2 separate regions of the Homo sapiens genome follow, and region 2 is linked to region 1. Evidence: fine-mapped expression QTL. A gene starts in region 1. The other region holds a variant in brackets. All regions are shown on one strand. Distances are between the middles of the regions.

What was found. PIP is the estimated chance that this variant, and not a neighbour inherited with it, causes the effect. A credible set is the group of variants that fine-mapping cannot tell apart.
Region 2: its variant is the best candidate, but not a certain one, in a credible set for the expression of ZDHHC12 in T cells (TOPMed, PIP 0.88).

What each region holds. Positions count from the first base shown.
Region 1 is chr9:128,715,731-128,729,917 of GRCh38, forward strand. It overlaps ZDHHC12 (zDHHC palmitoyltransferase 12), which reads right to left and starts at 8,397. Exons shown (of 5, transcript NM_032799.5): 1 at 8,264-8,397; 2 at 6,708-6,844; 3 at 6,279-6,356; 4 at 5,921-6,087; 5 at 5,143-5,772. The coding sequence starts at 8,363. The coding sequence ends at 5,451. It overlaps PKN3 (protein kinase N3), which reads left to right. Exons shown (of 22, transcript NM_013355.5): 16 at 1,017-1,193; 17 at 2,595-2,657; 18 at 2,819-2,895; 19 at 3,956-4,098; 20 at 4,180-4,287; 21 at 4,473-4,553; 22 at 4,664-5,186. The coding sequence ends at 4,876. ZDHHC12-DT (ZDHHC12 divergent transcript) reads left to right here and starts at 8,732. Exons shown (of 2, transcript NR_046240.1): 1 at 8,732-8,905. ZER1 (zyg-11 related cell cycle regulator) reads right to left here. Exons shown (of 16, transcript NM_006336.4): 16 at 14,056-14,187. RefSeq lists a silencer at 8,286-8,765 and enhancers at 13,006-13,837, 13,838-14,187.
Region 2 is chr9:128,233,473-128,246,068 of GRCh38, forward strand. DNM1 (dynamin 1) reads left to right here. Exons shown (of 22, transcript NM_004408.4): 11 at 549-635; 12 at 5,973-6,043; 13 at 6,256-6,307; 14 at 6,513-6,524; 15 at 8,760-8,873. MIR199B (microRNA 199b) reads right to left here and starts at 11,358; the gene lies at 11,249-11,358. MIR3154 (microRNA 3154) reads right to left here and starts at 11,558; the gene lies at 11,475-11,558. The variant T/C (reference allele first, on the strand shown) is at 4,416.

The sequences.
Region 1 (14,187 bases):
TGGCCAGGCGTGGTAACTCATGCATGTAACCCCAGCACTTTGGGAGGCCAAGGCAGGCGGATCACTTGAGTCCAGGAGTTCAAGACCAATCTGAATCACATGGTGAAACCCCATCTATAAAAAATAGCCAGACATGGTGGCATGTGCCTTTAGTCCCAGCTACTTGGGAGGGTGAGGTGAGAGGATTGCTTAAGCCCAGGAGGTAGAGGTTATAGTTAGCAGAGATCTCCAGCCTGGGCAACAGAATGAGACCTCATCTAAAAAAACTAATTAAAAAAAAAAAAAGGAGGGGGAGGCTGGGCACAGTGGCTCATGCCTGTAATCCCAGCACTTCAGGAGGCCAAGGTGGGAGGATTGCTTGAGCCCAGGAGTTCGAGGCCAGCCTGGACAACATGGTGAAACCCGCCTCTACAAAAAATACAAAAATTAGCTGGGCGTGGTGGTGCACACCCAGCTACTCGTGAAGCTGTGGTGGGAGGATCACTTGAACCTCAGTGGCGGAGGCTGCAGTGAGCCGAGATCGCACCACATCACTCCAGCCTGGGCAAGAAAGTGAGACCCTGTCTCAAAAAAAAAAAAAAAAAAGGCTGGGCGCACTGGCTCACACTTGTAATCCCAGCATTCTGGAAGGCCGAAGCAGGTGGATAACTTGAGGCCAAGAGTTCGAGACCAGCCTGGGCAACACAGCGAAACCCTGCGTCTACTAAAAATACAAAAATTAGCTGGGCGTGGTGGCGCACTCCTATAATCCCAGCTACTCGGGAGGCTGAGGCACAAAAATCTCTTGAACCCGGGAGGCAGAGGTTGCAATGAGCTGAGATCACACCACAGCACTCCAGCCCAGGCGACAGAGCAAGACTGTGTCTCAAAAAAAAAAAAAAAATGAAAAGAAACCATCAGTCTACTTGCCTGGCACTTTGGCTGAGGGCCCAGTGAGCCAGGGGTGTTGTGCAGGGCACAGGGCACAGCCCAGGGAAAGTTTTCCTTCCCTCTAATACTCTTGCTCTCTCCTGTAGCCTGTACTGCGAGAAGCGGATCCTGGAGGCTGTGGGCTGCACAGGGCACCCTTTCCTGCTCTCCCTCCTTGCCTGCTTCCAGACCTCCAGCCATGCCTGCTTTGTGACTGAGTTTGTGCCTGGTGGTGACCTCATGATGCAGATCCACGAGGATGTCTTCCCCGAGCCCCAGGCCCGGTGGGTTCCATCCCTCCTGCCTGCCTCTTCCAGCAAACTTTGCCTGGTTCCCTACACCCACTCTCTACATACTGCTTTCTCCAAGTGCCCAACAGCAGGGGAGCAGGAGTCAGAGGCCTTGGTTTACATCCTGGCACCAACTGACAGCATTTGTGATCCTGGGTATCAGCTTATGAAGCTGTGCATTAGGTTTCTTTTTTTTTTTTTTTTTTTTTTTTTTGTGAGACAGAGTCTGGCTCTTATTGCCCAGGCTGGAGTGCAATGGCATGATCTCGGCTCACCACAACCTCCGCCTCCCTGGTTCAAGCCATTCTCCTGCCTCAGCCTCCTGAGTAGCTGGGATTACAGGCATGCACCACCACTCCTGTCTAATTTTGTATTTTTAGTAGAGACGAGGTTTCTCCATGTTGGTCAGGTTGGTCTCTAACTCCTGACCTCAAGTGATCCGCCCACCTCGGCCTTCCAAAGTGCTGAGATTACAGGCGTGAGCCACCACACCTGGTGAGTCTCAGATCTTTATTTGAAAAATAGGCATGATTGGCCGGGCACCTGTAATCCCAGCACTTTGGAGGCTGAGGCGGGTGGATCACCTGAGGTCAGGAGTTCGTGACCTGGCCAACATGGTAAAATCTTGTCTCTACTAAAAATACAAAAATTAGCTAGGCATGGTGGCACACGCCTGTAATCCTAGCTACTTGAGAGGCTAAGGCAGGAGAATCGCTTGAACCCAGGAGGCGGAGGTTGGAGTGAGCCGAGATCCCGCCACTTCGGTCTGGCGACAGAGTGAGACTCCATCTAAAAAAAAAAAAAAAAAGGCCGGGCACGTTGGTTCATGCCTGTAATCCCCACACTTTGGGAGGCTGAGGCGTGTGGATCATGAGGTCAAGAGATCAAGACCATCCTGGCCAACATGGTGAAACCCTATCTCTATAAAAACTAAAAAAAAAAAAAAAAAAAAAAAATTAGCTGGGCGTGGTGGCGCGTGCCTGTAGTCTCAGCTACTTGGGAGGCTGAGGCAGGAGAATTGCTTGAACCCAGGAGGTGGAGGTTGCAGTGAGCCGAGATCGCACCGCTGCACTGCAGCCTGGGTGACAGAGTGAGACTCCGTCTCAAAAAAAAAAAAAATAGGCATGATGAATATCCACTGCAGGGACCAACACTTGGTCCCTGGCACCATTTAAGGGCCCATGAAGGGTGAGCTGGAAATGCACGCAACCTTGGGGCGACCTTGGGACTATTGGAGCACCCCCACCCTCAGCATGATGCTTGTCCCAGTCTCACTCATCTCTGACTCTGGCCGGGACATCCGGGATCCCCCCGCTATGGCCATCCTGGTGCCTCCCTGCCCTGCCTCCCTGGTGTGTGTCTTGGGCCTGAGTTCTCCCATAACCACCCCTGCAGCTTCTACGTGGCTTGTGTTGTCCTGGGGCTGCAGTTCTTACACGAGAAGAAGATCATTTACAGGTGACTTTTGTCCCAGGGATGCACGGGGGTAGGGGTGGGGGTGGGGGTGGAGTGGGTAAGGACAGATGCTGCCTCCGCCTGCCTGGGCTGCTCCAGGGGCCGTTACTGTTCCCTGGGTCTAAGCCCCACTCAGTCCCTTTGATCTGCACCCTTGCCCTCAGGGACCTGAAGTTGGATAACCTTCTGCTGGATGCCCAGGGATTCCTGAAGATCGCAGACTTTGGACTCTGCAAGGAAGGTGGGGGCCGCCCATTGGGATCCATATCTCCAGCCTTGTTTACCCACCCTGGCCAATAGGATGATGGGCACATGGCATGTCCCAGGAAATCTCCTCACCTGCGGATGCCCTGGTTCCACCACCCCAGACCTCATTCCAGGGGACAGCTGGGCACACTGGCCCTTTCTTCCTAGTCCTAGAGGCTCGTAGCCCCAGCCTGCACCTGGCCCAAGGGAGAGCCTGTGGTCAGGGATGGGAGAGGAGACTGAGTTCTGCCTTCTGTTTTTTTTTTGGTTTGTTTTTTTTTTTGAGACGGAGTCTTGCTGTGCCGCCCAGGATGCAATGCAGTGGTGCAGTCTCGGCTCACTGCAGCCTCCACCTACTGGGTTCAAGCGATTCTCTTGCCTCAGCAGCCCAAGTAGCTGGGACTACAAGCGAGCACCACCACACCTGGCTAATTTTTGTATTTTTTTAGTAGAGACGGGGTTTCACTGTGTTAGCGAGGATGGTCTCGATCTCCTGACCTCATGATCCACCCACCTTGGCCGCCCAAAGTGCTGGGATTACAGGCGTGAGCCACTGCGCCCGGCTTCTTTTTTTTTTGAGATGGAGTCTTGCCCTGTTGCCCAGGCTGGAGTGCAATGGCGCAATCTCGGCTCACTGCAACCTCTGCCTCCAAGGTTCAAGAGATTCTCCTGCCTCAGCCTCCCGAGTACCTGCGATTACAGGCACATGCCACCACACCCAGCTTATTTTTTGTATTTTTAGTAGAGACGGGGTTTCACCATGTTGGCCAGGCTGGTCTCGAACTCCTGACCTCATGATCTGCCCACCTCGGCCTCCCAAAGTGCTGGGATTACAGGTGTGAGCCACCGCACCCAGCCGAGTTCTGCCTTCTGTGACCTTAGCCTGTGAGCTTGGCTCTGCATGCAGTCAAATGGCGTCATAACCATTCCCACTTCCTTGGGTACAGGGCAGGGCTTGGCACAGGCTCAGCTCCCTGGCATCATAAGGCTTGGCTATTGAAGTTATTGTGAATAGGCCACACCAAGCAGCTATTGGTGTGCCTGTTGGTTTGCAGGGATCGGCTTCGGGGACCGGACTAGCACCTTCTGTGGCACCCCGGAGTTCCTGGCTCCCGAGGTGCTGACCCAGGAGGCATACACACGGGCTGTGGACTGGTGGGGGCTGGGTGTGCTGCTCTACGAGATGCTGGTGGGTGAGGTGAGTGCTGGAGCCTGTTTCCTGGGCCTCTGGGTGGGGGTGGGGTGGCCCGTGCATCCTGCTGAGCCCCCATCTCCACAGTGCCCGTTCCCAGGGGACACAGAGGAAGAGGTGTTTGACTGCATCGTCAACATGGACGCCCCCTACCCCGGCTTTCTGTCGGTGCAAGGGCTTGAGTTCATTCAGAAGGTAAGCACTGCGGGGTCTGGGGCTGGGCTGGATGGCCGCTCAAGGCCCATGTGCCCTCTGCCGTGGGACAGCAGACCCCCTGCCACCCATCCTTAGAGCGCTCTGGGCCAGCGTGCTTGGGGCCTGTGGATGATGGCAGTGCCTGGGGCTGAATGCCCTAAGTGAGCGCCTGTCCTATTGCCCAGCTCCTCCAGAAGTGCCCGGAGAAGCGCCTCGGGGCAGGTGAGCAGGATGCCGAGGAGATCAAGGTCCAGCCATTCTTCAGGGTGAGCGGCTGGGGTGGCGGTGGTCCCCTGTGCCTGGCAGGGTAGGTGGCATGGAGTGACTCCTGGAGCTGCTGTTCCTGCCGTCTCAGGCGCCTCTCCTTTGCCCTCAGACCACCAACTGGCAAGCCCTGCTCGCCCGCACCATCCAGCCCCCCTTCGTGCCTACCCTGTGTGGCCCTGCGGACCTGCGCTACTTTGAGGGCGAGTTCACAGGGCTGCCGCCTGCCCTGACCCCACCTGCACCCCACAGCCTCCTCACTGCCCGCCAACAGGCCGCCTTCCGGGACTTCGACTTTGTGTCAGAGCGATTCCTGGAACCCTGAGGGCATCTCCTGGCACCTCTGTCCCCTTCCCCCACAGACTGTTAGAGCCTCTGCTCGTTCACCCGTGCGCCCTGCCTGGAGGTCCAGGCCTTGCTGGGTACTTCTGAGCCCTTGGGATTCAAAGTGGCAGCCATGGGGCCACTGTTGTGGGCTTTGCTCAGTGTCACTGGGCAAAGTGTGTCCCTTCCCCCTCCAGCTCGCCCTCTTCTACCTCCCAGCGAGACCTGGCCCAGAAAGGGTGCCGCAGCAAGGAGTGATATGGTTTGTCTTTTTAAGACTGGACTTGCTTTATATTAAATTTGTAAAAGTGTGCACTGGCAGCAGCCTGGGCGGGGCTGGGGTGGAGCCCGGGGTCTGCTTGGGCCTGAGCCACCCACAGGTCCTTTTCTTCCCCTTCTTCCTTGGAAGGCAGAACTGCCCACCAAGGCAGGGATCTGTCTGACTTGAAGCTCCGTTCTGGGGTCTGGGAGGCGTGGGCAGGAGTGAGGGCCCCAGGCCCTCTGAGCGCTCACCCCAGCTGGGGACAGGCCCCGTGGTTTTCAGGCACAAGACGGTAGCCCGGCCTCCAGCAACCCTAAACAGCTGGGCTGCTGCCCTCTTCCTCCTCCTCAGCCCAGAGGGTCTCCCAGGACCCTGAGGGCCATCCACAGAAGAAGTGGGCCAGGTTGCGGGTCAGGCCTCGGTCGAAGGGGTTGCTGGGGCGCTGGCGGAGATAGGCGATGCGGTGTGAGGAGATGAATTCCCAGGTGGTGGTGTTGCTGGCCACCAGGTAGAGGTGCGAGACGAGGAGCAGGCTGGCCACCAACGAGAAGAGGGACAGCAGCAGGAAGGTGGCGAACAGGAGCCCGCTGGACCGCAACCACTGACCCCAGGGCTGGAAGAACCGGAGGCCTGACCTGCGGTGCAGGGGACAGGGGCCTGGTGCTGGGGGAGGGCAGGGGAGCCCTTCCCTCCCCATGCCGGGTCCCTGGGAGTCCTGGCTCTGTCCACCCCTGTGGGAGCATTCATCCCACCCTCCCTCTACACCCGGGCAGCAGCACCCACCATGCCAGGTACAGGCCCCACAGAAGCACCACCAGCTGCAGCGCCAGGTAGACCACAAAGAGTGGGTGGTTGCGCTCTCCCACACAGTTCTCCATCCAGGGGCAGTGGTGGTCGTAGCGGCGGACGCAACGGCGGCACTCACGGCAGTGCCGAGCCCTCAGGGGCTGCTGTGGGCATGGAGGAGAGTGGAGGCTCAGTGCCAGCCCTGCTGTGGGCCCACCACTGAGGGAAGGAATCAGGGCCTGATTCTGGAAGGCCTTCTTGGAGGAGGGGCGAGGCCCAGGCAGTGGGGCAGGAGGAGGTCGAGGAGTCTCAGCTTTGGCCCAACCTCTCCCACGGGTGTCCGTGCATCACTCACCAGCACCAGGCAGTATCTGCAGCGCCGAAGAGGGATGGCTGGAGGAACCATGGCTGTCTGCTCCTCTTTGAGCTCCTCCTGGAATGAGGGGTGGGGTGTAAGACAGGGTCCCCTTGGGAGACAGATGGCATTGGCGGGCAGCTCCCCTAGGGGCCGGCTTAGCTCTGGGTATGGAGTTTGGGACCCATCCCATGCAGAATGGAGGTGTGGGGTATGGCGGAGCACCCTGGACTGAGGGCGGCTGTGTATGTTTGCAAGTCTCTTCCTTCTCTGGGGCCCAGCAGTTTCCTCACTACTGTAGATGGGGCTCTAGGGGTGGCAAGAGGAGTCACTGAACTGCTCCCACAAGAGCCTGCAGCACAGAGCCTGGCATGGAGACTGGTGCTGGTTGTTAGGTCCCTGTTGGTGAGAGTAGGGGCCCCTGGTTACCTGAGGCTGGGGCTGCACATTCACGTAGCCAGGGTCCATGAGTGACACAGCGAGGTAGAGCAGCAGGGAGCCCAGCACCAGGAGCAGGAAGGTGAGGGGCAGGAGCAGCTCCCCCTGCTCCTCCCATTGCCGCAGCTCTGGAGAGGCCGGAGAGCACAGTGAGGCTGGGCCGGGTAGAACAGGAGTGGGTGGGGTTGGGGTGCAGTTGGAGGTGGGGAAGTGTGTTCCTGGCTGAGCAAAGGCCTGGAGATGTTGGTTCCATGAGTGGCTGTGTGTGGCCAGCAGTTCATCTGCACTTTTATCTGGAGGGTCAGAGGGAACCATGGAAGGTTATAGAGCCAGATCTGTTTTGGAAAACCTCATTGCTAAAGAAATGGATCAGGGGAAGCCTGGGGGCAGAGAATCTGGCCAGGAGGAAGAAGAGAGTCGCTACAAAGGCCTGGCAGGAAGTGAGGGAGGAAGGAATGGACAGGGGGCTGCTGGGTCAAGGGAGCCAGACCTGACTGGATGTGGGAGAGAGGGAAGAGGGGTCCAGCGTCTCTGGCTCTGCAATGGTGAGAGACTGGTTAGGTCTGAAATGCCTGAGAGAGATACAGTGGGAAGGGTGCAGCTGGCAGGCTCAGATGCTGCAGAGGGGCATACGGAAGGGTCCAGCAGGCTTCAGCCCAGGGAGGTGACAGGATTTTGGGGAGGTAGGGTGCAGGGCAAGGAGTGAGGGGGCATGAGACCACCAGACAGCAGAGTGTAGACAAATCCTGTGTCCCTTGGTTGTAAGGGGGAGCAGAGAAGAAAGGGTGGGTTTTGAGGGGGGTTTTCTGATACGGAGACCTGAGCAAGTTTTTAGGCTAAAGGGTGAAGGTGGTGGAGGAGGTCTGTCTTGGGAGGAAAGCCAGAAGGGGCCCCAGTCCAGAAACTGAGGCTGGACCGCCATGGAAGGAGGGCTGGGGTCTGCTGTGGGGGACAGTGGGGGAGGCTGCCTGTGGCAGGTGAGGCGCTGGGTAGGGGGCTACTAAGAGGAATGAGGGAAATGGAGGTGGGTGGGTGGGTGAATCTGTGGGAAGATGGGAGACAGGCCGCACCCCATGGAGTGTTCTCTGGCCTGAGGGTTTGCCTGGACTTGGGCAGCTAGTGGCCATGGGGGTGTGGGGGGTGTGGGTGTGGGCAGAATGCCAATCTTTGCATCTAGTTGAGCCTCCTAATCGTATGGATAGGAAGATTTGGGGTCAGTTCCTGGGAAGGATCATGTGGGTCCCAGGATCAGGGGACATGGGGCTCAAGTCGGTCCTTGGATCTGGTGGGCACCGGCTGGGTCCTGGGATGGACAGGGCATTTGGCAATGATCAGGAAGATGCTGGGATTAATTAGGGATCAACGGGGTATCAGACAGAGAGCAGGTGGCTCTTGGAATGATAGATGGGGAGAGGGCTTCAGGAGCTGGTGGAGATCGGGCCAATCCCAGGATCTCCAGGGATTAGGCGGGAGACCCAGTGTGACCAGAACGTCTGGGGAAGTACGCGGGATCGGGTGGGTCCGGGGTCGCTCGGGGTCCGGCTCACCGGTATCGTGCAGGAAGAGCACCAGCGTGATTCCCCAGGTCAGCACGGTGTGCCCGGTCCGCACCAGGACCCCAGGGCTGAGGAGCGCCCAGGGCGCCATCGCCTCGGCCCGGGGCCCCACCCGGAAGAAGCGCCCAGAGGGGCGGGCCCTCCGAGGGAGGGGAACGCCGCCGCCCGGGGACTGGTGGATCTAGGCGTTGGGCGGGGCCGGACTGGGTCAGGGAGGCTGCCTATTGGATGGCATCTGCGGCCGAATGGACCCTCAAGCCAACAGGTGCCTGAAGAGGCTGAGGGTGGGGCCGGCGCGCGCGCAGCTGGTAACTCCCTCAACTCCAGCCCCACCCGCCAGGTAACTTTTGAAAGCGCCGGAGCGCGCGCGCACCTCCCCCGCGCTCCGCTGTGCCCTCCCCCGCGTTCCCCTGTGCCCGCCCTCGCAGCCTCGCGCATGCGCGTAGCTCCCTGGGCGCTTCGAAGATCCAGCGGCTTGCTGTGAGTCCGGGAGGCAAAATTGTACCCATTTCAAAGATGTGATGACTAAAGTCTCGAGAGGGCCAAGGCTCGCCCAAGGTTGCTCTGTGGTGACAGCTTTACCTCCTTGCTATGTATTCTCAGATATTGCAAACGGACGAGAGAAAAGTGGAGGTACGTGGTGCACATTCTGACTATGGGTGATCCAACTTAGGCGGGAGTCAGAAATCCCAGCACTGCCCCTTCCTACCTGTGTGACCCTGGGCGAGTTACTGAGCCCCTCTGAGCTGTTTTCTGTCTCTATAAGGGGGATTACAATAGTGTCTTCCTCCTAAGGTGTTTGGGAGGATTAAATAATGGAAGCGCCTTGTCTAGCACGGGACTGTCTTGCCTCTCCTGCTGTGAGCCACCACCTACAGGCGGACTTTCCTCACCGGAGGCTGCAGGCTGTCCTCCTTCCCTGTGTCCCCAGGGCCTTCTCCACTCAGCCCCGCCTTTCCACAGCACCTCCCACTGATACCAGCATCCTCCTCCGCCTCCCTCTGATTGGCCCCATCCCAGCTCCTCCAGGATACTCCTCTGACATCTGTTGTTTTTCTCAGCTCAACATCCTTTTTTTGGTTGGGGAATCGACTTCCCATCCCATGTGATTGGAGGGACTGCCCCTCACCCCATAGGATGGCGAGCGGCAGGCTGTGGGCTTTCGACTCTGCAGAACCAATCACAGGCCTTCCATGAGATTACTGTCTAGATGCTGAGAGGAAGGAGCATTCTTTTGGATCTCAAGCCTAAGGAATGGGATATAAGGCAACTGGGAGCCGTCTTTACGCTGGGCGGAGAGGGCTTACCCTGTCTGTGGCTGGAGAAAATGAGACCAACTTATAAAGACACATAGAGATGGATAAGCAGCACTAAAGGAGGGAGCAAGAGATGGTCTGAACAACATTGTCTGAGCCCTCTAGATCCGGCTGTCCCTGAAGCTGATACTGACTCTGCATCCCCTGGTTGCAAGAGTCAATGAATGCCCACCTTTTTTTTTTTTTTTTTTTTGAGACAGAGCCTCACTCTGTTGCCTAGGCTGGAGTGCAGTGGCGCGATCTGGGCTCACTGCAACCTCCACCTCCCAAGTTCAAGTGATTCTCCTGCCTCAGCCTCCCAAGTAGCTGGGGTTACAGGCACATGCCACCACGCCCAGCTAATTTTTGTATTTTTAGTAGAGACAGGGTTTCACTATGTTGTCCAGGCTGGTCTCGAATTCCTGACTTCAAGTGATCTGCCTAACTCAGCCTCTCAAAGTGCTGGGATTACAGGTGTGAGCCACCATGCCTGGCCCCAATTCCCACCTTTGACTAGCCTGAGTAGATGTTTGAGTTGGGTGTCTGTCATTTGCAGCTAAGTCTTGACTACTGCACTGGGTGCAGGATCTGATGTGCTCAGTGGGGACATCCAGCACATTATCCACTCAGCACATAATTCTGAAGCTTCCGTGGGTTAGGCACTGTGCTAGTATCAAACATCCCAACACTAGTTCAAATAGTAAGGCCAGATTTTAATTAACAATATACTACTGATAGGGCGGAGAGCCCAGTGTGAACCAACTGAAACTTCTGTTTGTGCAGAGGTGACTGATGTTTTTTGTGGTTTTGGTTTTCTGCTTTCTTGAGATGGGGTCTCGCTATGGCCTCAAACTCCTGACCTGAGGCAATCTTCCCCCTCAGCCTCCAGAGTAGCTGGGACTGCAGGCGTGCTCCACCATGTCTGGCTTAAAGGGAGAATGAGGGAGTGGAGGGAAACGGTGAGGGCTTCAGCAGAATAAGGGAAATGAAAAATTCCAAAGGGTTGGTCATGGTAAATGTGATTAGGCAGCTCCGCGTGCTCGCTGGCAATGGTGAAAGTTAGGACTCTGTTCTCCTGCAGAGACTGGGAGACAGAGGCTCTGTCCTTCCTGATATTACATTTCAATAGAATGGCCTTCAGGTCCTTGAAAAAGACACTTCTGAGTTGTAGGAGATACACACTCATCTCAAATGGACAGAGGAAGGATCACAATTGTAAGTTCCCATCCCACCACACTTTTTTTTTTTTTTTTGAGACGGAGTTTCGCTCTTGTTGCCCAGGCTGGAATGCAATGGCGGGCTCTCGGCTCACTGCAACCTCTGCCTCCCAGGTTCAAGCGATTCTCCTGCCTCAGCCTCCCAAGTAGCTGGGATTACAGGCACCCGCCACCATGCCCAGCGAATTTTGTATTTTTAGTAGAGATGGGGATTCTCCATGTTGGTCAGGCTGGGCTCAAACTCCCGACCTCAGATGACCCGCCCGCCTTGGCCTCCCAGAGTGCTGGGATTACAGGCGTGAGCCACTGTGCCCAGCACTTTTTTTTTTTTTTGAGAGGGAGTTTCGTACTGTTTCCCTGGTGTGATCTGAGGCTCACTGCAACCTCCGCCTCCTGGGTTCAAGCAATTCTCCTGCCTTAGCTTCCAAAGTAGCTGGGATTACAGGCACGTGCCACCACGCCTGGCTAATTTTTTAAAAATTCTTAGTAGACACAGGATTTCACCATGTTGGCCAGGGTGGCCTTGAACTCCTTACCTTGTGATCCGCCTGCCTCGGCCTCCCAAAGTGCTGGGATTACAAGTGTGAACCACTGTGCCCGGCCAGAGGTCACATTTCTTAGGGAGACTCAGTAAAATGGCTTTATGGTTTAGACATCAGTCTATTTTGGAGAGGTAGGTCATGTTTGAAGGTGCTGAGCGGCAAAATTAGTTTCTTTTTTTTTTTCTCTCCAACTTTTATTTTAAGTTCAGGGGTACATGTGTAGGATGTGCAGGTTTGTTACATAGGTAAACATGTGCCACTGTGGTTTGCTGCACAGCTCATCCCGTCACCTAGGTTTTTGTTTTTGTTCGTTTGTTTTTGCAATGGAGTCTTGCTCTGTTGCCTGGGCTGGACTGCAATAGCACGATCTCAGCTCACTGTGACCTCTGCCTCCTGGGTTCAAGTGATTCTCCTGCCGCAGCCTCCCGAGTAGCTGGGATTACAGGTGTGCACCACCACACCCAGCTAATTTTTGTATTTTTAGTAGAGACGGGGTTTCACCATTTTGGCCAGGATGGTCTCAAACTCCTGACCTCAAGGGATCCGCCCACCCTGGCCTCCCAAAGTCCTGAGATTACAGGCTGAGCCACTGTACCCAGCCTGGCCACAGGTTTTTAAAAGGAGAGCCCTCCATGTGCCAGGTTTTGTGCTGGGCTACAGCAGAGCCTTGATGTGGCTTGTTGCTCACAGTCCAGTGGGGGAGACGAGACAAGGCAATTTCAGCCCCATGAGATAAGTAGGTGCTGTGATGGGATGAGCAGGAACTAGAGTGTTCCTGACACAGGAAATGGCAAGTATCAGGCCAGCGAGCTAGAGGAGGAGCACCTGGCACATCTGAGGATCTTGTTTTCCCTCCTTTACTGTGGCAACCTTGAGGTAATAAGTCATGTCAGGCCAGGTATGGTGGCATATGCCTGTAATCTCAACACTGTGGGTGGCTGGAGTGGGAGGATTGCTTGAGCCCAGGAATTTGAGACCAACCTGGGCAACACAGTGAGACCCCATTTCTACAAAAAAACAAAAATTAGATGTGCATGGAGGTGCACGTTTGTTGTCCCAGCTACTTGGGAGGCTGAGGTGCAAGGATTGCTTGAGCCCAGGAGGTCGAAGCTGCAATGAGCTGTGATCGTGCCATTGCACTCAGCCTGGGCAACAGTGAGACCTTGTCTGAAAAAAATAAAAAGTAAAGTCACTTCACCTCTCTGAGCCTCAGTGTCCTTGTCTGTGAAATGGATTATTGCCAGGGTTCTGAGGAAGCGGAAGGTACATGAAGCACTTAGCCCGGGGCCTGGGACACAGAATAAGGTTCAGCAGTGTTGGCTGCTGCTGGCAGGCACTGCCCTCATTCCCTCCGAGGCACAGACGACCCACCAGGGTTCTGAGGCAAACCACTTGATGCCCTTCCTGCCCAGGTCCTGTGGGTGGCCAGTGGCAGGGGGCTGTCAGCCAGGGGAGAGAGAGGCCAGGTCCAGGCCCTGCAGGGGGTGGAGAAGAGGGGACCTCGGCTTCACAGAGGCTGTGGGAGGAGTCAGTGCTCAGCTTCCAGAAATGCTTAATTGGGTCCTGATGCCCAGGCTTAAAACCTCACATAAAGGGTAAAATCCACACACTCACGGTGGCCTATAAAGGGTGTGACCGTATCATTTCTTTTTTGTTTTTTGAGACGGAGTCTCGCTCTGTCACCCAGGCTGGAGTGCAGTGGCACCATCTGTGCTCACTGCAAGCTCTGCCTCCTGGGTTCACACCATTCTCCTGTCTCAGCCTCTCAAGTAGCTAGGACTACCGGTGCCGGCCGCCTAGCGCAGCTAATTTTTTTGTATCTTTTAGTAGAGACGGGGTTTCACCATGTTAGCCAGGATGGTCTTGATCGCCTGACCTCGTGATCCACCTCGGCCTCCCAAAGTGCTGGGATTACAGGCGTGAGCCACCGCACCCAGCCCACCATATCATTTCTTATTCCAACCAGGCAGCTCTTAAGGATGACAAGGCACTGTTGATAGACGTGCGGGGACCACAGGTGTCAGCCAGGACGGCCCTGGGCCATGCTAGAGTCTGGGCACCTCACAATTTGGCACCAGCGACTTCCTGGTCCCCTCCCACTCTACCCTTGTTCCTCACGCTGCCAGGGCCACATGGGGCTGCTTCTCTGTCCACCCTGGCGGGACCCTCTGCTGAGGATGCACTTTTCCTCAGCCCCTCGGGCCAGGCCTGGGCAACCTCCTTCTTTTCCCTGGGTTTGGCTCCACTCTGTCCTCTTGTAAGAAGCCTCCCAGACACATGGGGACATCGTGCTGGCTCCTCCCCCTCTCCCCAAAGCACTGTGGCCCAGCGGACTCCAAGCTTCCCTGATCCGCCTGCCCACTCCCATCCACTGGCAGGAGGCACCTCCTCCGCTGCCTTCTCCCTGATGGTGGCACAGAGTTGTAATCTTCTATTTGCCATCTGTCTCCCCCATCAGGCTGAGCCATCTTAGGCAGGCACCCTGTTGGTCTGGTTGCCAGCTGTGTCCTCAGTGGGCACAGGGATGTGAAGAGAACACATAGGAAACAGGTACTCCAGCTCAGTCCCCTGCCACCTGTCCCCAGCCTGCAGCCCTTTAACCCACCAAACGCACCCCTCCCTACCACAGAACTACCTACACTGCAGCCCCCCTGCCAGGGGTGGCTCAAGCCCTGCTCCAGAGCCTGGAAGCCAGGCTAGCAATCCCCTCCACAAAAAAAGACGCTCTGTTTTCCATTTTGCACAAAAATGTATTTCTGTGACTTCCCAAAGTACAGACATTTCCCCAGGCCCCAGGGGGTAAAGCAATGAGGTGTGAAGTCTGCCAGGGTCTGGCCGGGGCCGCTGAGCGTGGGAAGGAA
Region 2 (12,596 bases), 480 kb before region 1:
CCAGCTCTGACAAGGAGCATTGCCTGTCCCAGCCTGACTCAGGAGGCCAACTGGCACCTTGGGCCCTGTCCTCCCCCGATTCCTCCTGGATAGGAATCCAGAGGCTGTCCCCTGCCTGATTCCCCATCTAGCTGTCCCTCCACGCCTTTAGGAAGGCACAGGGTAGCCCTGAGTATGAGGGAACACCTTGGGAGCTAACGGTCCCCAGAGGCCTTAACCTAACCAGTCTGCGGGGCAGGCTCATTCCCATGGCCTTTCTCCCACGGGAACCACCCCTCTGCCCTGAAGTTGCCCAGGTAGGCCAGTGAAGAGGGCCCGGAACCAGGAAGACCCTTGAATCACCATTTGGAACCCACACTTGGGGGAAAGGGGTGGCCGTGGCTTGGTGCCATCAGCGTCCTGGGACCCTAGGTCTCTCTTCCCCGCGTTGTGGGCATTCTGTGTGTGCCTCCCACCCTGCGCCGCGGATCCCTGGACTCGTGGGGTGTGGGTGCTCCCTGCCCGTGCCCTCTGTGTACGTGGCTTTCTGCCCTCCTGCCCTTCCCCAGCTCCAGCAGTACCCGCGGCTACGGGAGGAGATGGAGCGCATCGTGACCACCCACATCCGGGAGCGCGAGGGCCGCACTAAGGAGCAGGTGAGCCCCGCAGCACCCGGCCTGGCCGCGCCTTCCTTCCACTCCTGGCCGCCTGCGCCTTCCACTCCTGGCCCTGGGGTTGCTTCCTTCTTGTTTTGTCTCTTCTGTCTCAGTCTTCCTCTGTCTCATACTGACTCTCTGCTTCTCTCTCTTTTTTATTGCAGTAAAATACACATAACATACCACTTTAGCCATGTTTAAGCGCACAGTTCAGTGGCACTAAGTACATTTGCGCTGTTGCACAGCAACATCCATCCACAGAACTGTTTTTTTGAGACAGAGTCTTGCTCTATCGTCCAGGCTGGAGTGCAGTGGTGTGATCTCTCAGCTCACTGCAACCTCCGCCTCTTGGGTTCAAGTGATTCTCTTGCCTCAGCCTCCCGAGTAGCTGGGAGGCTACTGGGAGGTGGCGTGCGCCACCATGCCCGGGTAATTTTTGTATTTTTAGTACAGACAGGGTTTCACCACGTTGGCCAGGCTGGTCTCAAACTCCTGACCTCAAGTGATCTGCCCACCTCAGCCTCCCAAAGTGCTGGGATTACAGGCGTGAGCCACCGCGCCTGGCCCACAGAACTCTTTTCATCTTGCAAAACGGAAACTGTCCCCATGAAACACTAACATCCCATTCCCTGCTCCCCCAGCTCCCGGCAGCTGGCAGCCACCATTCATGTTTCTGTCTCTATGAATTTGTTGTTTGTTTGTTTTAAGACGGAGCCTCACTGTTGCCCAGGCTGGAGTACAGTGGCATGAAATCGGTTCACTGCAACCTCCGCTTCCGGAGTTCAAGCGATTCTCCTGCCTCAGCTTCCCGAGTAGCTGGAATTACAGGCACGCACCACACACCCGGCTAATTTTTTATATTTTTGGTAGAGATGGGATTTCACCATGTTGAACAGGCTGTTCTCAAACTCCTGATCTCAAGTGATCCACCCGCCTCGGCCTCCCAAAGTACTGGGATTACAGGTGTGAGCCACCGTGCCTGGCCTGTCTCTATGAATTTGACTTTTCTAGGGACCTCACGTAAGTGGAGTCATACAGTATCTGTCACTTAGCATAATGTCTTCCAGGACCATCCGTATTGTAGCATGTGTCAAAAGCTGCTTCCTGGCCGGGCGTGGTGGCTCATGCCTGTAATCCAAGCACTTTGGGAGGCCAAGGTGGGCGGATCACGAGGTCAGGAGTTTGAGACCAGCCTGGCCAACATGGTGAAACCCCGTCTCTACTAAAAATACAAAATTTAGCCGGACTTGGTGGTGGGCGCCTGTAATCCCAGCTATTCAGGAAGCTGAGGCAGGAGAACCACTTGAACCCGGGAGGCAGAGATTGCAGTGAGCTGAGATCATGCCATTGCACTCCAGCCTGGGCAACAGAGTGAGACTCCGTCTCAAAAAAAAAAAAAAGCTGCTTCCTTTTTAAGGCTTGAATAATATTCCATTGTATGGATGGACCACACTTTGTTTATTCATGTGGGTTTTTCCTACCTTTTGGCCATTGTGAATCACACTGCTTTGAAGATGAGTGTACAAATCCCTATCTGAGTCCCCACTTTCTACCCTTTTGAGTATATACCTAAAAGTGGAAATGCTGGGCCATAGGCTGGTTCTATGCTTATTTTTTTTGGAGACAGAGTCCTGCTCTGTCGCCCCTGCTAGGCAGGAGTGCAGTAGCATGATCATGGTTCACTGAAGACTCGACCTCCCAGGCTCAAGCGATCCTCCGACTTTAGCCTCCCGAGTAGCTGGGGCTACAGGTACATGCCACTACGCCTGGCTAATTTTAAAATTTTTTTGTAGAGACGGGGGTCTCACTATGGTGCCCAGGATGGTCTCAAACTTCTGGGCTCAAGCGATCTGCCTCAGCCTCCCAAAATGCTGAGATTACGAGCATGAGCCACCGTGCCCAGGCTGGTCAGGCTTTCTTCACTTTCTGGCAGTCTATCCTTGTGGTCCTCTCTTTGGGCCTCTCTTTGTCTATTTGCTGTTTCTCTGGGTCACATTATACCCCTCATAGCCACCCCCACCTTTTATGTCATCGTTCATCAAATATTCATTCATTTCTTCCTTCAATCACAAACATAGCCACTGAACGCTACCTCTGAGCTGCACGGAGCAGAGGTGAGCAGGGCCCATCGTGGCCCTCACGGAGCTCGGAGGCTAGTCCTCCTTTCTGATCCCTGTCTGCCATGCCCCTACATGTCTGTTGTAGCCCCCTCTGGCTCCCATTTCCCATTTCCTGTTTTCACACATCTCTCCATGATGCTGCCATCTCCATTCATTCATGTTTTTGTTGTTGATGTCATATTTTTAAATCCTTATTGATTGCTTTTTAATTACAAACATCATAAATACTCAATAAAACATTCAATCAGTATCGAAGTGGTTAAATTACAAGGAGATAGCCCTCCATTCACTCTTCCCCACCCCTAGTTCTTCCTGAAAAATAACCATTACTAACAGTTTGGGGCTCCACACAGTGGCTTATACCTGTAACCCCAGCACTTTGGGAGGCCTAGGTGGGAGGATTATATGAGCCCAGGAGTTTGAGACCAGCCAGGGCAACATGGCAAGACCCCGTCTCTACAAAAAATTTAAAAAACTAGCTAGGTGAGGCGGCATGCACCTGAATTCCTAGCTACATGGGAGGCTGAGGTGGGAGGGTCGCCTGAGCCCAGGAAGTGGAGGCTGCAGTGACCCATGATCATGCCACTGCATTCCAGCATGGGCAACACAGTGAGACTCTGCCTCAGTAATACCCCAAAAAGCAAACCAGTTTAGTGTGTCACCTTGCAGGCATTTTCTTATGCGTGTGCACTCACACACAAACACACACAATCCAGATTCCATCTTTATCCTAAACCACAAGCCTGCTGTGTGCCTTGCCTTTTTCCTCTGAAGATAATTGTAATATCTAACATCTGTTGAGTATCTCATCTCCTGTGTCTTCACCAGTTCTAAGAGGCAGAAACGCTACATTTGTGGACTTTGAGGCTAAGTGAGGACAGACCCCAAGCTCACAGGAAGCAGTGGGGCTTGGGTCTGAACCTGGAAGTCTTTGTCCCATCTGGAAAGTCATTCTCATCACTACTGAATTCCAAATATGTTCACATTTAATCGTTTGCAAGGGTCTTCCCAGGCCGGAACCTGGACATTATCCTTGTTCTTTTTTTTTTTTTGAGACGGAGTCTCTCTCAGTTGCCCAGGCTGGAGTGCAGTGGCTCAATCTCGGCTCTCTGCAACCTCTGCCTCCCGGGTTCAAGCCATTCTCCTGCCTCAGCCTCCCAAGTAGCTGGGACCACAGGTGCATGCCACCATGCCCGGCTAATTTTTGTATTTTTGTAGAGACAGGGTTTCACCATGTTGGCCAGGCTGATCTCGAACTTGTGAACTTGTGACCTCAAGCGATCTACCTGCCTCGGCCTCCCAAAGTGCTGGGATTACAGGCGTGAGCCACCCCGCCCGGCCTGTCCTTGTTCTTTTGAACAGCTGCAGGGTGCTTTCTTGTCTAGAGAGTGTCATAATCTATTTCACCCTCAGATGGCCACTGGCTTGCTCCCAATTTTTCTCTATTACAAACTGTACTACTTTGAATACTCTGGCTCATGTATCTTTGCTCACTTGATGAGTGTATCTGTGAGATACAATTCTGGAAGTGAATATGTGCATTGTTTGTTTGTTTGTTTGTTTTGAGATAGGGTCTCGCTCTGACGCCCAGGCTGGAGTGCAGTGGTGCCATTATGGCTCACTGCAACCTCTGCATCCCTGGGCTCAAGCGATCCTCCCA[T/C]CTTAGCTTCCCAAGTAGCTGGGACCACAGGCGTACACCACTACACCTGGCTAATTTTTCTATTTTTTGTAGAGACAGGGTTTCTCCATGTTTCCCAGGTTGGTTTTGAATTCCTAGGTTCAAGCAATCCTCCTGCCTCGGCCTTCCAAAATGCTGGGATTACAGGCATGAGCCACCATTCCCTGCCCTGTGCATTTTAATGTTGTTAAATATTGCCAAATTGCCCTCAGAGAAGGTGATACTGATTTACACTTCCATCAACAATATATGAGAGAGCTCATTTCCCAACACTTGTGTCATGCTGATCATTTAAAAAGCCTCTGTTTGTTTGTTTGTTTGTTTGTTTGTTTGTTTGTGACAGAGTTTCGCTCTTGTTGCCCAGGCTGGAGTGCAATGGCACAATCTCGGCTCACTGCAATCTCCACCTCCTGAGTTCAAGTGATTCCCCTGCCTCAGCCTCCCAAGTAGCTGGGATTACAGGCATGTGCCACCATGCCCATCTAATTTTGTATTTTTAGTAGAGACGGGATTTCTCCATGTTGGTCAGGCTGGTCTCGAACTCCTGACCTCAGGTGATCCGCCCACTTCGGCCTCCCAAAGTGCTGGGATTACAGGCATGAGCCACTGCGCCTGGCTAAAAGCCTCATTTTTAACTTACATTTCTTTATTAATGAGAGTAAGGATTTTTTACACATCCTTAGTGGATGTATGCATTTCTTCTATGAATTATTCATCATGTTCTTGACTATTTTGATTTGTGATTTTCTTTTTTTTTTTTTTTCTTTTGAGGTGGAGTCTCACTCTGTCATCCAGGCTGGAGTGCAGTGGTGCCATCTCAGCTCACTGCAAGCTCCGCCTCCTGGGCTCACACCATTCTCCTGCCTCAGCCTCCCAAGTAGCTGGGACTACAGGAGCCCGCCACCACGCCCGGCTAATTTTTTGTATTTTTAGTAGAGACGGGGTTTCACCGTGTTAGGCAGGATGGTCTCGATCTCCTGACCTTGTGATCCACCCACCTCGGCCTCCCAAAGTGCTGGGATTACAGGCGTGAGCCACCGCACCTGGCCAATTTGTGATTTTCTTTCTTTCTTTCATCCTCTCCTCTCCTCTCCTCTCCTCTCTTCTTTTCTCTCAGGGTTTTGCTCTGTCTTCTAGGCTGGAATGCAGTGGTGCAATCTTGGCTCACTGCAGCCTCAACTTCCTGGGCTCAATCAATCCTCCCTCCTCAGCCTCCCAAGTAGCTGGGACTACAGGCACATGCCACCATGCCTAGCTACCTTTTGTATTTTTTGGTAGAGACAGGTCTCCCTATGTTGCCCAGGCTGCTCTTGAACTCCTAGGCTCAAGCAATCCTCCCACTTCCACCTCCCAAAGTGCTGGGATCACAGGTGTGAGCCACCACGCTCAGCTTTTGTCTTTCACTGATGGTAGGGACTATATTTATTATGGATACTAACCTCCTATATGTGCTGCAAGTACTTTTCTCCCAGCTTGCCCTGCATTTTAAAACTTTGTGGTGTCTTTTGCGCTTGCCCACCAACCTATGTATCCTTGAAGGTCATGCTTCTCATCGATATCGAGCTGGCTTACATGAACACCAACCATGAGGACTTCATAGGCTTTGCCAAGTGAGTGCTCCCCCAGGCAAAAAGTGAGTGCTCCCTGGGCAGAGAAGGTAACGTGTGTGTGTGTGTGTGTGTGTGTGTGTGTGTGTGTGTGTGTGTGTGTGTAGAGCCCAGGTCTGCTAGGTTAACCCTCTGGGTCCTGTGCCCACTAAGCAGTGGGCAGTAGAGCTGGGCCTCTTGAGAAGTTCTGAGACTCCTCCCCTCCCTCCCATTAGTGCTCAGCAGAGGAGCAACCAGATGAACAAGAAGAAGACTTCAGGGAACCAGGTGAGTGGGGCCCAGCACCCCAGCCCGAGGGATGGAGGGTGCCGGACGGACACCAGACTCTGAGAGCCCCCTCCCCTGAGGGGAAGGGTCCCACGGGGGCCAGGGACCTGTCAGCTGCCAGCCACAAGCCTCCCACTCTGCCTCAGTAACCCTCTCTCCTCTCTCCCCGATGCCTCTCGTGGTTGCTATGGTTACCTCTTTGCAGGATGAGATTCTGGTGAGTACCAGGACTGGGGCTCTCGGCTTGTGTAGTGAGGGGGCGGAGGGTCCATCGGCAGTGGGGATCTGCAACGGGTAGGAGGGCACCCTTTGGCTGAAGCTGCTTGTACACACCAGCCCCTGGCATTTCACACCTGCCCTCAGGCCAGAGGCAGGCCCAGCCGCATCCACCCGTCCATCTGTGTGCACGAGCCAAGCACCTACTTCAGGCAGAGCTAGACCGTGTGGGGCTGGGTGGGTGAGAAGGCTGGGCCTGGCACGGAGTAGGTGCTCCTTAAACATCTGCTGGATGGAGGGATGCACGTGAGCAAGACACATTTTTAAGAAGCTGACAGCCATCGCCTCCGGACTTGAATGAAGAGACGAATGAGAAGTCAAGAGAAGTCAAGAAGTCACTGCTCACCTGGCCTCCTGCTCTCTGTCCTTAGATGTCTGCGGAAACATCCCTCGTCAGAAGCGCTTGCTCAGTTGTACACATGAGCCCGAGGGTCCTCAGCTTTTCTTTCCATAGGTTCCAGAGGCCGTAGTTTCTTTGTAAGACTCTAGGTGTTTATGTGATTATTGGCTTAATGTCTATTTCCTTCCCAGGCCCCATAAGGGGAGGGCTGAGTCTGTCCCGTTTATCATTAAATCCTCAGCTCAAGCCCCTAGCCTGGCACGCAGTAGGTGCTCAACAGAATGAAGGGAGGAATGAATGTAGTATCAGGACAATTCAATTCAGCCAACACTAGCTGGTGCCTACACGGTGCTGGCCCCTGGACAGGACGTGGAGACCTGGGCCTGCTGGTAGGGCCCAGCTAAGGCCCCTGAGAGCTCCATGCAGGGTGGGAGTTGGGAGAGCAGGAGGTCCCTGGTGCAGGGCTGCAGAGAGGGCTTAGGATGAGCAGAGAGGAGTTCAGGGCTGGGTGTGGCCAAGGGGGAGGACAAAGACTACAAGTTAGGGTGGGGAGCAGGTGGCAAGATCTGCTGGTCACATCGTGGGACACAGTGGACTCAATTCCAAAGACAGTGACAAGACCCTGTGGGGATCCTCGCCTGATCAGGAAGGGGTGAGAGAGGCAGCTGGTGTTCTCCCCTCAGCTCAACTGCTGCTGGGCTGTGCAGCTTGGGTTCTCAGCGAGGTTCTCAGGGAACCAGAGAGGCATAAGGAGGGCTCCAGAAGCAAGCCTGGCCCCAGAGGGCTTTGCCGCCAGCCCCAGGCCTCCTTGGGTCTTCTCTGGATGCTCAGAGAAGAAGCTGGGGAGGTCAGCGTCCAGGAGGGAGCAGAAGCAGCTGCCTCATCCTCTCGATCTGACCCATGACCAGTACCTGGCCAGTGACCCTACCCCTGAAGTAGAATCCACAGGCCCTGGACCGTGGCCATGGCTCTGGACAGTCCTGGGGACAGCTGCTTCCTGCCATGAAAAGGGACCTTAGCTTGTTACTCTAGGCACTTTGTGGCTCAGCCCTTGCCCCTGGGGACCTGGAGCCAAAGACCCTTAGAACCGTACTATCATAGCTTTTATTTATTCATACTACAAATATGTATTGATCACTTACTATCTGCCAGGCCCTCTGCAAGGTGCTGGGATGTACTAGTGACCAACAGTTCATGATTTAGCAGGGGAGGCTGCATCGACAGATAATCACACACACGCACGTAGAGAAGTTAATTAAAAATCGAAGCCCTTGTTACAGAAGTCGACTTCAGGGAGTGATCAAAGATCATTATGGGAATCCTGATTTATACTGGGGGACAGGAAGGGGCTGCCTGAGAATGTGAATCCTGAGCTGATACTCAAAGGCTGAGTAGGAATTTGCCAGGCAAAAAGGAAAAAGTGCTTTCTAGGCAGAGGCGGCAGCAGCATGTGTAAAGTCAGAAACACATCTCAGAACAGATGAGACCTTAAGCTTCCAAGACTCGCAGTTGGCTTCCCCAATCGGCCCCATAAACTCTGCTTGCATACTTTTAGTGACAGGGAGCTCATCCCCTACCCAGGCCTCCAGTCCCTTAACTCGGCCAGGTCTGCCTGTCAAAGGCTCTTTATCCTGAGCTGATCTCTGCCTTCCTCTGTCTTCCACTCTGTTCACTTGTGGTTCAAACCAAGGCAGGTCTGGCCCCCACCCTCCCTGACTGCCAGGCCTCAGAGAGCTGGGAGAGGGGTGGGGTTTCGAATGCCTCTCTTTGCCTACCCCATCCCCCATGGGGAGGCTCAGGCCCTGTCCACTGACCTCCTGCCCCATCACCCTCCAGGTCATCCGCAAGGGCTGGCTGACTATCAATAATATTGGCATCATGAAAGGGGGCTCCAAGGAGTACTGGTTTGTGCTGACTGCTGAGAATCTGTCCTGGTACAAGGATGATGAGGTGAGTCAAGGGCCAGTGGTCATCAAGGGGCTGGGCTGGTGGACAGAGTCAGGCTCAGACCCTCCCATGGGCTTGGAGTGGGCTAGACCATGGAATAGGGTTTTAAAATGTCTCGTCAAAGATCCGTGGGCAGGCTGGGTGTGGTGGCTCACACCTATAATCCCAGCACTTTGGGAGGCCGAGGCAGGTGGATCACCTGCGGTCAGGAGTCCGAGACCAGCCCGGCCAAAATGGTGAAACCCCATCTCTACTAAAAATACAAAAATTAACCAGGTGTGTTGGCGGGCGCCTGTAATCCCAGCTACTAGGGAGGCTGAGACACAAGAATGCCTTGAACCCGGGAGGCGGAGGTTGCAGTGAGCCGAGATCGCACCATTGCACTCCAGCCTGGGCAACAGAGTGAGACTCCATCTCAAAAAAAAAGGATCCACGGGTGGAGTTGGGATGCAAGGGTCCAAGGCAGGTGACCCTGGGGGTTCAGGGGGAGGCACCCTCTCACCCAGGTTGGAAGGAGAAGGTAGCTTGGCAGGACTGAGGAGCCTGGGGCTAAGCGCCCTGGGGAGGGTGGGCAGGGGACTTGGGTGCCCCTCCCTGACCCTGCAGCCCAGCAGCCTTCCTGTTTTCCCGCTGCAGGGCGTGCCGCCTCCTCTGTGGCCCCCACAGGCCCATGACACACACAAGTCTAGCTGCCAGACACCCGGTTAACCCCTGCACCCCAGTCCCCTAGACCCCTGCAGTCCAAGGGAAATGACCAGGGTGCCCTCAGGCTGAGGGGCAAGGAGTGTGGGGGCCCTGCCGAGGTGCCACAAAAAACCCCTCCCCGCCCACTAGGGTGCACAGAAGCCCCTGCCACCTCCTTCCCCTGTTGCTGGTCTCCTTTAAGAATGAGTCTATTTGGCTTTCACATCTGGATTCCAGAGGTGACCAGAGAGAATGGGGAGGGCTGGGGGTGGGCTTGTGGTAATGAACTCCAGCTGGCCAAGGAGTGGGGGAAGGGACCCTCTTCTTCCTGAGGGGGCTGTTGGAGGCTACAGCATCCTCAACGGGGGAGCGGGGCTCTGGGTGGGGCCTGTGATTTTGGCCTCCAAGCCCCCTCCCAGGTCCCTGTCTCCTCCAAGTTTGTCCTGGGCAGGGGCCCCAACTCTCCACCTTGGGAGGGGCCCTCTGTCGTCACTGGCGGGGGCGCCAAGCCATCTGGACCTCATTACCCCAACCCTGGCCTCCCCCACCATGGGGGCCCCTGGAAGGGATGGAGTGTGCAGTGGCATGGGGTGCGGGTGGGGGGTGGCTTCCTGCCGGTCTCTCTGCAGGCTCCCTAGATGCCCCCATGGGTTTGGGGTCTCCCATGTTGAGGTTCCTTACTCAGGGCCAGGGAGACCATGTGACCTGGGGCTGAGGGCCGGAGACCGGGTGACACTGTGGGGGAGGGGCACGTGCCACTGAGGGGGTCCCCTGATCTCATGCCTGAGCCTGCAGGCCTTTCTGGAGCTTTTGTGTACATCTGAGTTAAGTCGTGTGCGAAAACAGCTCTGAGAATCATATGTGGGGAGATGGGAGTCAGCTGTGGGCTGTGGGTGCTGGGAGGCGGGGTGTGTTTGTGTGTGTGTGTGTGTGTGTGTGTGTGGCTTGTGGGTCTGGTGTGTGGGTGTTTTTTAGGAGTGTGATTGGAGTATAAGCATCTAGGTGTGTTTGGAATATGTGGTCTGCATTTGCATCTGGGGGTGAAATCTGTGTGCCTGGGGAGTGACTCTGGGCACCTGCCTGTGCTTGGGGTGTAAAAGCAGGTGTGTGTGGGGAGGGGGCTCTAGGAGGGAGGGTGTGAGTATGGGGTGTTTGAGAATCTGTGTATGTCTTTGGGATGTGAGGATGGGGGGAGTGTTCCAGTTGTGAGGGTGTGTATGGGTGTGTGTGCATGCACTTGTGTGTGTCCGTGTGGGACATGGGTGTGAGATTGAAAGTGTGGGGGTGCTCATGTGTGTGAGTTCTGGGGCTGTGAGTGTCAAGGTGCGTGTGTGTTGAATGTGAGTGGATTCTTGCACTAGGACCACTGGGGATGTGGAGGTGGTCCAGGCTGGTGGGAGAGTGGTCTGTACTTCTCTACTCAACCACCAGCCCTCAGGTTTTGGGGTGAGGGAGGCTCTTTGGGCAGACCGGCGGCTGCCCACATCCCCAGTCCCCATTGACCCCCCCATCCTCTCAGTCTTCCTCGGCCACCCTTCCCCCATCACCGCTACCCCCAACCAGTCCCACACAGGGTGGCACCCCCATCCATCTGTGCCTCCTCCCAGCCCGCCCTGTGCCCCAACCCCCTGGCTCCAGGCTCCGGTTCTGGGATGGCAGGCAGGGGTCGGTCCAGCTCTCCAGTGGCGGCGGTGCCGAGGGTCTAACCCAGCCCAGCCTAACCAATGTGCAGACTACTGTACAATTTGGGAGTCCTGAACAGATAGTCTAAACACTGGGTAGACGGAGTGGAGGTGTCCTCTGGTCCATCCAGGCAGCAGTGTCTGTCCATCCGGTGGGCGCTTCAGCCCCATCCCCTGGAGATCCGAGAACCCCCCAACCCCAGCCTGTGTCCCCCTAGCCCCAGACCAGCCAGCCCGTGGTCCCCTCTCTGCTCCCAACTCCCCTTCTGCCTCCTTTGACGTGGCAGGGGTGAGCGGGAGCTGGGGCTGAGAAGGAGGGGCCTGAGGAGGGGGCCGGCCGGCAGGAAGGGAGGGGTGGGGGGAGGAGGCCGCTCCTACCTAGTGTCCAACCCCGAAGCACAGGGCGGGTGGTGGCGGGGCCTCTCTCGAACGGTTCCAGATGTTCCCTGGCCGTGTGTGCAACTTCCTCCTCTCCTCCCCCAGCCGCCCTCTGGGGCTCCCGGCCACCCGCCTGGCATAAAGAGGGCTTTATGTGGCTGCATGGGCCAGGGGGGCGTTGGGGGCAGAGAGGGGTGGGCGGGATGACGCCAGGACGGGGGAGCAAGGTCCCCCTAAACCCAGCCCCCCACCTGAGATCCTAGGCAAGGCTCATGCCCAACCTCTTTGAGTCCCCGAGGCCCACACAGACGACCCCCGTGAACAAGTAGGGCATGGGTGACAAAAACCCCTCCCCTCTCCCAGAGCCCCATCCTGGGGTACCTCCTCCCTAGATCCCTGAACCCCTCCCCTGGGACACAGCAGCCTACATACACATGTGCCCACACCGAGCACACACATGGGCCTAGCACCCCACACGCCTGTGCACAGATACACATAACTCCTCCCAGACAGCTCTAGATAAATCAAACACACAGCCCATTGTACCACGGTGTGCAGGTAAGATGTGTACCCCAGTATAAGTCCACAGGCATGGCTCTGCAAACATGTAGGCTCGCACAATTGCCACACACATCCACAAAGTGTGCACACATCCACACTGAGATGCAGACACGCTGACACCGACACATGGTTCATGCTGGGCACCTCCCCAGATACACATGTGCACACACACACAATAGCTGATAGGATATGTACTTGGGCTTGCATGTGTTGGCACAAACACACAACTACACACATGTTGCACACACAGGCACACCATCTCCAGGCTTGTGCTGGCTGCCTTATTGCTAACACATGGGGAGCTCGGGGGAGTGGGCTGAGCCGGCCCTTTGAAGCCGCCGGGTCTGGTGGCCCCCCTTCCTGGTCTCTGCAGTCAGGAAATGAAGTCAGAGGCGGCCAGGCCGGGGGTGAGAGAGGCCTG